2 separate regions of the Homo sapiens genome follow, and region 1 is linked to region 2. Evidence: fine-mapped expression QTL. A gene starts in region 2. The other region holds a variant in brackets. All regions are shown on one strand. Distances are from middle to middle.

Evidence for each region. PIP is the estimated chance that this variant, and not a neighbour inherited with it, causes the effect.
Region 1: its variant is fine-mapped to the expression of BST2 in whole blood (TOPMed, PIP above 0.99).

Annotation. Positions count from the first base shown.
Region 1 is chr19:17,379,184-17,384,626 of GRCh38, forward strand. It overlaps LOC105372298 (a long non-coding RNA gene), which reads right to left and starts at 589. Exons shown (of 3, transcript XR_936362.3): 1 at 497-589; 2 at 230-303. RefSeq lists an enhancer at 1-865. The variant A/G (reference allele first, on the strand shown) is at 2,449.
Region 2 is chr19:17,403,450-17,408,747 of GRCh38, forward strand. It overlaps BST2 (bone marrow stromal cell antigen 2), which reads right to left and starts at 2,181. Exons shown (of 5, transcript NM_004335.4): 1 at 1,842-2,181; 2 at 922-988; 3 at 680-740; 4 at 231-375. The coding sequence starts at 2,126. The coding sequence ends at 246. BISPR (BST2 interferon stimulated positive regulator) reads left to right here and starts at 2,237. Exons shown (of 4, transcript NR_130766.1): 1 at 2,237-2,322; 2 at 2,628-2,847. It also overlaps a transcript of MVB12A not described here. RefSeq lists enhancers at 1,360-2,098, 2,083-2,142, 2,213-2,592, 2,783-2,842, 2,893-2,942 and 2 more.

The sequences.
Region 1 (5,443 bases), 24 kb before region 2:
CCGGAAAGGAGGCTGGACTCCGGACAGGTGACAATCATGCAATTGCTGTCCTCTGTAGGGCAATGTGAAGGCTGGGGCGTGGGGACCCGTCCCCCCATTAGCCAGGGTAACAGAGTGGGGAGGGGTCGTTGACAGAGCGGAGGGGTACTCCAGGGTGGTGCTCAGTGAGGCGAGTGTAGAGTTGAGAAGAAGGAAGTTCCCAGGGGTGGGCAGGAAACCCATGTCTGACCTTTGACCTTTGCAGCTACCCGGTGGTTCCTGATCCTGATTCCGGACCCTTCCCAGCGGCGTCGTCGGCGGCTGCTAGTGGGGGAAGGAGGGCTGGGGGCTGCCACGGGTGCCCAACCAGCCATTTCTCTGGGTTGGCCAGACCCACCCAGAGCCCCCCAGAGCTGGGCAGGAGGAGAACATCCTCCGTAATGGGGGCAATGTAGTCTGAGTGAACCCAGCATTACAGTTTAGAGTTCTGGAGTTGAGTTCTGACTGTGCCACCTACCAGCTTTGTGGCCTTGGAGAAGTGACTTTCCCTCCCTGGGCCTCAGTTTTCTCCTGTCCGAAGTGGAGATAGCCAGGTGCAGTGGCTCACACCTGTAATCCCAGCAGTTAGGGAGGCAGAGGTGGGAGAATCGTTGGAGCCCACAAGTTCAAGACCCTGTTCTAAAAAAAAAAAAACCCAAAAAACAAAAACAAAACAAAAATCAAGTGAAGACAACATAGCCAGTTTTTTTTGTTTTTTTTTTTTGTTTTTTTTTTTTTTTTTTGAGATGGAGTCTGGCACTGTTCCCCAGGCTGGAGTGCAGTGGCACTATCTTGGCTCACCACAGCCTCTGCCTCCTGGGTTCAAGGGATTCTCCTGCCTCAGCCTCCTGAGTAGCTGGGACTACAGGCACGCGCCAGCATGCCTGGCTAATTTTTTGTATTTTTAGTAGAGACAGGGTTTCACCAGGCTGGTCTCAAACTCCTGACCTCGTGATCCGCCTGCGTCGGCCTCCCAAAGTGCTCGGATTACAGGCGTGAGCTACCTCACCTGGCCAACAACATAGCCAGTTTTGAAGTACTTGACGTCATGCCTGGAACATACTCAGTCTTAATAAATGATGGCCTTTTTTTTTTGAGACAGAGTCTTGCTCTATTGCTCAGGATGGAGTGCAGTGGTGCGATCTCGGCTCACTGCAACCTCTGCCTCCAGAGTTCAAGCAATTCTCCTGCCTCAGCCTCCCAAGTAGCTGGGATTACAGATGTGCAGCACTACTGCTCAGCTAATTTTTGTATTTTTAGTAGAGACGGGGTTCCACCATGTTGACCAGGCTGGTCACAAACTCCTGACCTCAGGTGATCCACCTGCCTTGGACTCCCAAAGTGCTGAGATTACAGAATGAACCACCGCACCGGGCAATGATGGCATTTTTTAAGATGTGAGGGCTGGATCATGCCTGGCCTCTGATGTCAGGCTGAGGAACTCAGACATAGGGGAGGGGCAGTATTCCCAGCTGCCGGTGCCCCAGGCCTGTGAGAGCACTGGGGAAAGGAGAGCATGATGGGGATGAAGTGTGGGTGACCAGGGTCCAGCAGAGGAGCTGAGGCTGGGTGCAGTGTCTGGGCCAATGCCAGTAGATGTGGGTCTTGGTGTACACTTAAGATCTTGGCTGTTCTTCATTGTATATAGAAGATGTTGCATCTATGTATGTATGAATGTGATACCAGTTGACAAGGAAAAATAAAGGCAACCTCAAACTCCCAGAAAACAAAAAGCCCCCCGGACCTGATGGTACTGATGTGCCACAATTTTGAACAGTTGTCACCATGTGAGAAGCAGAGTTTTAAATATACATACCAATGTTATTTGTATCAAGCCCAAAAACAATATTTGGTGTCCTTTTCTAATTTGATCTCACACCTTTAATTTGTAATGTTTCTGTTTTGGATCATTTGTTATATTAGCTGATTTAACTTTGTAACTTTTTGTTTGTTTGTTTTGAGGCAGAGTTTTCTCTTGTCGTCCAGGCTGGCATGCAATGGCATGATCTTGGCTCACTGCAACCTCCACCTCTGGGTTCAAGTGATTCTCCTGCCTCAGCCTCCTGAGTAGCTGGGATTACAGGTGCACACCACCATGCCTAGCTAATTTTTTTTTTTTTTTTGGTATTTTTTAGTACAGATGGGCTTTCGCCATGTTGGCCAGGCTGGTGTCGAACTCCTGACCACAGGTGATCCACCCACCTCATCCTCCCAAATTGCTGGGATTACAGGCGTGAGCCACCACGCCAGGCCTGATTTTTTTTTTTTTTTTTTTTTTTTTTTTTTTTTTTTTTTTTTTAGCAAAAAGGGTAGGCTGGGGGTCGTGGCTCACACCTGTAATCCCAGCACTTTGGGAGGTCGAGGCGGGTAGATCACGAGGTCAGGAGTTCGAGACCAGCCTGGCCAATATGGTGAAACCCCATCTCTACT[A/G]AAAATACAAAAATTAGCTAGATATGGTGGCGGATGCCAGTACTCCCAGCTACACGGGAGGCTGAGGCAGAAGAATTGCTTGAACCTGGGAGGTGGAGGTTGCAGTGAGCCCAGATCGTGCCACTGCACTCTAGCCTGGGCTACAGAGTGAGACTCCATCTCAAAAAAAAAAAAAAAAAAAAAGGTAAAGATAGACCTTCCTCTTTTTGCACAGTATTATGTCTTTGAGATTCATTGACTCCTATGGCTGGCTGTTTAGGTTTTCACCAGATACAGTACCATAAAATTATGAATGGACACTTAGATTTTTTCTGAGTTAGTTTTTCAATAAATAAAAGAAGATTTAAAATCAAATTTCCTGGCTGGGTGCGGTGGCTCACATCTGTAATCCAAAGCACTTTGGAAAGCCAAGGCAGGCGGATCACTTGAGTCCAGGAGTTTGAGACCAGCCTGGGCAACATGTTGAAATCCCATCTCTTCAAAAAATACAAAAATTAGCCGGGTGTGGTAGTCCCAGCTACTTGGGAGGCTGAGGCAGAGAATTGCTTGAATCCAGGAGGCACAGGTTGCAGTGAGCCGAGATCACACCACTGCACTCCAGCCTGGGTGACAGAGTGAGACCCGGTCTCAAAAAAAAAAAAAAAAAAAAAAAGAAAGAAAGAAAGAAAGAAAGAAAGAAAGAAAATCAAATTTCCAGAAATGAATGAAATTACTGGGTCTCAAAGTGGGCACATTTTTACATTTTGATAGTTGTCACCAATTTGTCCTTCAAAGAGGTTGTTTTCATTGACATCTTTGCCTGCGATGTCTGAAATCTCCAAACATGGACTTTATGAAAATGTTCTGTTTGTGTCCTTGGCCAGAAAAATCTGGAGGGAGAATGTGAGTGCCTGATCAAGAATCTACATGAAGTCAAATGCATCAGCCCTGATGTGAGTGTTGGGTTTTTTCCTGAAAACAATTTGTCATGTTCACAGGAAATTTTGCACATGAATCCCTTCAAATTCCCTTGGAGGGGCATCAGAAAATCAGGCTTGCTTTTTAAACCCTTTTGTTTTTCTAAACAGAAAACAATTGATTTGGTTTCATTTGTTTGTTTGAGTGGAGAAGGAAAAACTGTCATGAGGAAGTCAACTCTGTGTCACTCCCTGAAAACTGACACTGAAGTCCTCATGGAGACACGAGTTAAAAAAAAACAAAATCACTCAGAACTTCAGGAAGGTCCTTGAGGAAGTGATATTTCTGGTGAAGAAGGATTTCAGTGAAGTTCAGAAAACCTTCCACTATTTTGTTTTTTTTTTTTTGAGACGGAGTGTTGCGCTGTTGCCCAGGCTGGAGTGCAGTGGCACGATCTTGGCTCACTGCAAGCTCCGCCTCCTTCCGGGTTCATGCCATTCTCCTGCTTCAGCCTCTAGAGTAGCTGGGGACTACAGGCTAATTTTTTGTGCCTTTAGTAGAGATGGGGTTTCACCGTGTTAGCCAGGATGGTCTCGATCTCCTGACCTCGTGATCCACCCACCTCGGCCTCCCAAAGTGCTAGGATTACAGGCGTGAGCCCCTGCGCCTGGCTTTTTTTTTTCTTTTTCTTTTTTTGTTTTTTTTGAGACGGAGTCTCGCTCTGTCGCCCAGGCTGGAGTGCAGTGGCGCCATTTCGGCTCACTGCAACCTCTGTCTCCCAGGTTAGAGCAATTCTGGCTCAGCCTCCTAAGTAGATGGGACTACAGGTACACACTACCACCCCCGGCTAATTGTTATATTTTTAATAGAGACTGGGTTTCACCATATTGGACAGACTGGTCTTGAACTCCTGACCTCAAGTGATCCTCCTAACTCAGCCTCCCAAAATGCTGGGATTACAGGCATTAGCCACTGCACCGGGCCAACCCTCCACTTTTATGTCTGTGAGTTTGGTTTTTGGTTAATCGAAGTGAAGTTAAGTTTTGTGCTTTTGGAGGTGACGGAGGCAGCGAAGAGAGTCCCTCTGTGGGGTGGGGGAAACCTGTGCTCTCTGGGACTCTGTGTTCCCTGCTGAAAAACAGGGACCTAGGCTGGGCGTGGTGGCTCACGCCTGTAATCCCAGCACTTTGGGAGGCTGAGGCAGGCAGATCACCTGAGGCCAGGAGTTTGAGACCACCCTGACCAACATGGAGAAACCCCGTCTCTACTAAAAATACAAAACTAGCCAAGTGTCCTGGCGCATGCCTGTAATCCCAGCACTGGGGAGGCTGAGGCAGAAGAATCGCTTAAACCCGGGAGGTGGAGGTTGCAGTGAGCTGAGACTGCGCCATTGCACTCCAGCCTGGGCAACAACAGTGAAACTCGGTGTCATAAATAAATAAATAAATAAAAAGAAAAACAGGGACCTACTTCCTTGCCTGTGACTGGAGGGCTGGAAAGGTCAGGTTGCAACTAGCCCATGTCCCCTCCTGCCAAGGCCACTGTGGGCTTTCCATTTTTGTCCCCTACCCCTGTCCCTCCAGCTATGGGAGGGGAGGTCCAGTGTGGCCACGGATAGGGATTACCCAGGATGGTGCCCTGGAGACAGGGGTAGACAGACAGAGATAACCAGAGACAGAAAGACACTTAAAGAGATGACCAGCAGAGGGCGGGTGCTGTTGCTCACGCCTGTAATCCCAGCACTTTGGGAGGCCGATGCAGGTGAATCACCTGAGGTCAGGAGTTCGAAACCAGCCTGGCCCAACATGGTGAAACCCTGTCTCCACTAAAAATAAAAATATTGGCCAGGCGCAGTGGCTCACACCTGTAATCCCAGCACTTGGAGGCCGAGGCGGGCGGATCATGAGGTCAGGAGTTCAAGACCAGCCTGGCCAACATGGCGAAACCCCATCTCTACTAAAAAAAATACAAAAATTAGCTAGGTGTGGTGGCACGTGCCTGTAATCCCTTGGGAGTCTACTTGGGAGGCTGAGGCAGGAGAATCACTTGAACCCAGGAGGCGGAGGTTGCAGTGAGCCGAGACCACGCCACTGCACTC
Region 2 (5,298 bases):
CTCCATCGATAGACCCGCCCCCATTGATAGCCCCGCCCCATACAGCTATCAGCCCGTCCCCGATCCAGGGCATCCTTCTCACTGGATTCTCCCTCCTTCCCCAAGGCCCCTCACCTCTGCGCCCAGTCCCTTCCCCTGCAGCCTCTCTCTCTAGACTTCGGAGCCTCTGCTTCCCCGCCCCGCTTCCCCAGCTTTCTTCTCCCTCCCGGGGCCGCCCCCTCCTCACTGACCAGCTTCCTGGGATCTCACTGCAGCAGAGCGCTGAGGCCCAGCAGCACAATCAGCAGCTGGGGCGCCGCAGCGGAGCTGGAGTCCTGGGAGCTGGGGTAGTACTTCTTGTCCGCGATTCTCACGCTTAAGACCTGGTTTTCTCTTCTGCGGTACAGATGGCAAATCAGGCATCTGCTCGTCCTGGCTCCTGCCGCCCTCCCTGTAAGCCCACCGCCCCCGGGAGTTCCCCCCGCACCGCCCCAATCCAAGTCACCGGGGAGGGAATGGACAGCGGCCACCCATGGCTCTGTGACCCTAGGGGCTAAGTTATCCTTTTGTGGGACTCAAACTTTATCCCTTGGGGCAATGGGGATTTTGGGAGCAAAGGAGATCCTGGGTCTTGGGCTAGGGATGTGGGGGTGAGAGGAATGTGGCAGGTGGAGGGTAGCGGGGGAAGGCTATCTCTGACCTCAGTCGCTCCACCTCTGCAGACGCGTCCTGAAGCTTATGGTTTAATGTAGTGATCTCTCCTGGTAGGGTGGGAGGACAGAAACAGGGGGCGGGTCAGCATGTGGCCATGCTGGGGCCCTGCTCCACTCTGGGACAGAACCTCCCCCTTACCCCAACCTCCAGCCCTGGTCTCCCTGCCCCCACCCCCTCTTCCATACCTGACTCACCCCTCCCCGGCCCTCTCCCTTCTCCCTTTCTCACCCTCAAGCTCCTCCACTTTCTTTTGTCCTTGGGCCTTCTCTGCATCCAGGGAAGCCATTAGGGCCATCTAAGAAGAGTTAGAATCTGGGGTTTTGGCCTGGGGAGTTTGGCTGCTGCCCCTGGGACCTGGGCCTCCTCCCTAGGTCCTGGGGACAGAGGGGCTTAAATGCAAACCCCTTTCAGGTTTTCTTCCAACCCTCTCTGCACCATGGTCTCCAACCTTAAAGAACAGCCACAACCACACACTCTCCCAGGGCCACCCATAAGCATGTGGGTCCTCAAAATGGGAGTTTTGAGGCCACCCCACGTGGAAACTTGGAGGCTATCGATAACCAAAGTTTAGTGGACATTTCCAGATTGCCTGAGCAATGGCCCAAGAAAAGTTAGAGGGCCCTACCAAATCCAGAATGCAGTGGGATTTCCCCGCCCAAGTGACATGCCCAGCGAGAGTTTCAAGATCCCCCATATCAGGACCCAGGTGAATATTTCAGTTTCTTAGGGATGAAGTGAAAATTTCAAAAGCCCCCTTTTTCAGGGTCTGGTGAGGTCCCCCTTCAACCCTGAATAGGGATTTCTACTCCCCCAGGACTGGTGCCCACGAGGAGTTTCAAGGCCCCCGACACCAGTGCCCTGGAAAGAATTTATAAATTCACCTAAGTCCCAGGGGGATACTGAGGTCCCCGATTTGGGGGATCTGGAGAGTTTTAACACCCTGCCCCTACACCAGTGCCCTGGACTGGGTTAGGGGCCCACAAACCCTGGTAGGGGAACCTAGGTCCCTTGATGTGGGGGCCCAGGAGCAGTTTCAGGACCTCCCCTGCATCTCCCTGGAGACCCACCCTGGGTCAGATTTCTGGGGAGAGATTCTTGTCCCTCCCACCGCCTAGTACTAGGCCATCCAAAGGAGTTGAGGAGCTTACCACAGTGTGGTTGCAGGTGGCGGCCTGGGCCTCCACATCCTGAAAGCCCTTCTGGGCCTCGGTCAGCTCTTGTTGCAGGAGATGGGTGACATTGCGACACTCCATCACTGCCCGAAGGCCGTCCCGGCAGGCCTCGCTGTTGGCCTTGATGGTGAAGATAATCAAGGGCACCCCCAGAATCACGATGATCAGGAGCACCAGAATTCCTATCCCCAGCAGAAGCTTACAGCGCTTATCCCCGTCTTCCATGGGCACTCTGCAATAGTCATACGAAGTAGATGCCATCCAGATCTCCCCTTTAGAGTCTGGCCTGGAGTTAGGGGAGGGTGCTGGAATCTTCTACGGGCCACCCCTTTATTAGCATAGGAAACGTCCTGACCAATAGCAAGTTCCAGGAAGTGCTCTGACCAGCAGCTCTTGCATGAGGCACCTACAGGCAGAGGATTAATTAGGTTTTCAGTTTCAGTTTCCCAGAAAGGAGGTGGGCTTTTTTTTCACCCTGCTTTAAAAGCCCTTGGGCCCTTCCCAGCTGGGTGCCAGCCAACTGTGGCTGCCTGGGACACTCCATCTTAAGTCCCTGTGCCTCTGCTGTGTGTTACTGAGTGCCTAGGCCGTGCCAGCCTGTATTCATCTGTACTATGACCTGAAGAGGCAGAGGCCATCACTGTTGGTCCGGTCTCCACCTGGGGAAACTGAGGTTGCACAGTTGCGTGGTGGAGTGAGGGCAGGGCCTGGGTCTGGGGGCGGGGCCTGGGTCTGACCCCAGGGACTGGTTTTTGTGTTCAGGTGTCTCTGTGGTGACGAGCAGGGCTTCATCCAGTGCCTCTGTCCCCACCGAGGGGACTATGGGAGACATGGAGGGTGTGTGAGCAACAGGTGAGACTGGAGCCAGCTGAAAACTGGGAGACCGACCCAGCCAACAAACAATGTCGGTCTCTGTCTTGGCACCTGCAGGAAACAAGCTCCTACTTCCAGAAAAAGTGCTCCTGGGACTCCAGGATACCAGGTAAACTCTCTGAGCCTGTTTCTTCATCTGCAAAGGGGAATAACAGGGCCAGCCTCAGACACTGTCCATGTGGCCAAGAGAGCCAGGGCTTCCTACAGGAAATCAGGCCCATTATCGGCACCCAACTGCTGGGCATGACCGCTGAAAGGGGACTGCATGTTTTTCTTGTGGCTTCTTCAGCCACATCCTGACCACAGCCCAGATTCTGTTAGGTCTGCCATTTCCATGTTTTTTTTTCTTTTCAGCAGGGCCAGACAGTAGGCGAGGTCAAGTCCAGAGCCCAGGCCTCCCAGAAGGCCTGGGGAACTCCCCCCAGGCCCTGACTCCAACATCCCTCAGAAGGACCCCATTAAAGCCACTTAGAGCCAGGCATGGTGGTACATGCCTGTGGTCCCAGGCTGAGGCTGGGAGGCTGAGGCAGGAGGATCACTCGAGCCCAGGAGTTTGAGGCTGCAGCGAGCTATGATTGTGCCACGGCACTCAAGCCTGGGTGATAGAGTGGGATCCCATCTCTTAAACCAATAAACAAAAAAATCACTTAGAACCAAGAACCAATTAACAAGCTGTGGGAGATGATCTTGCTGAAAATTCTGAGGGTGAACTTGTCCCAGGAGGAGGGACCTACCAGCCTGGCCAGGACTCCAGGTGCAAAGACACGACCTTTGCCTGACTTATTTGACTAAGCTGACTTATTTGAGCAGCACTGTTCTGGCCTGCTAACTTTAGGGTTAGTTTGGGACCAGGTCGGAAATCACAATTGCATGAATTGCACATTGGAGGCCAGGGTGGTGCACCTCTGGGCAAATGAATTTCCTCTCTTAGCATTGATTTCCCCAGCTGTAAAATGTGGATAATAATAGATTGATGTCCTCTCTAAATTTTGCAGCTGTAAACAGTCCCAGCCCTGCAAACCGAAAGTTTGTTGCTCTTCCCTTTAAAATTACTGTAGGGACCAGCCCCACAGGGTCAGTGGGTCTCTCCCTGTGTGCGGCGACGAGAGAGTGTAGAAATAAAGACACAAGACGAAGAGATAAAAGAAAAGACAGCTGGGCCCGGGGGACCACTACCAGCAATGCGCGGAGACTGGTAGTGGCCCCGAATGTCTGGCTGTGCTGTTATTTATTGGATACAAAGCAAAAGGGGCAGGGTAAAGAGTGTGAGTCATCTCCAATGATAGGTAAGGTCACGTGGGTCACGTGTCCACTGGACAGGGGGCCCTTCCCTGCCTGGCAGCCGAGGCAGAGAGAGAGAGAGGGGACAGACAGAAAGACAGCTTATGCCATTATTTCTGCATATCAGAGACTTTTAGTACTTTCACTAAATGACTACTGCTATCTAGAAGGCAGAGCCAGGTGTACAGGATGGAACATGAAGGCGGACTAGGAGCGTGACCACTGAAGCACAGCATCACAGGGAGACGGTTAGGCTGCCAGATAACCGCGGGCGAGCCTGACTGATGTCAGGCCCTCCACAAGAGGTGGAGGAGCAGAGTCTTCTCCAAACTCCCCCAGGGAAAAGGAGCCTCCCTTTCCCGGTCTGCTAAGTAGTGGGTGTTGTTCCTTGACACTTTTCGCTACCGCTAGACCACTGTCCGCTCGGGCAACGGGCGTCTTCCCAGACGCTGGCGTCACCGCTAGACCAAGGAGCCCTTCTGCTGGCCCTGTCCGGGCATAACAGAAGGCTTGCACTCTTGTCTTCTGGTCACACCTCACTATGTCCCCTCAGCTCCTATCTCTGTATGGCCTGGTTTTTCCTAGGTTATGATTGTAGACCGAGGATTATTATACTATTGGGATAAAGAGTAATTACTACAAACTAATGATTAATGATATTCATATATCTCTAAGATCTATATTTGGTATAACTATTCTTGTTTTATATTTTATTATACTGGAACAGCTCGTGTCCTCAGTCTCTTGCCTTGGCACCTGGGTGGCTTGCCGCCCACAATTACAAATGGTGGGATGGGTGCAGTGGCTCATGCCTGCAATCCTAGTACTTTGGGAGGCTGAGATGGGAAGATTGCTTGAGGCCAGTAGTTCGAGACCAGCCTGGTCAACATAGAGAGATCCTATCCCTATTTAAAAATAAATATATATATATATTTTAAGTACATATATTTATTTTATTTTGTTTTAATTAATTAATTAATTAATTAATTTTTTTTGAGATGGAGTCTCGCTCTTGTTGCCCAGGCTGGAGTGCAGTGGCACGATCTTGGCTCACTGCAACCTCTGCCTCCGGAGTTCAAGCGATTCCCCTGCCTCAGCCTCCTGAGTAGCTGGGATTACAGGCGCCCACCGCCATGCCTGGCTTATTTTTGTACTTTTAGTAGAGACAGGGTTTTGCCATGTTGACCAGGCTGGTCTTGAACTCCTGACCTCAGGTGATCTGTCTGACTCAGCCTCCCAAAGTGCTGGGATTACAGGCGTGAGCCACTGCACCTGGCCT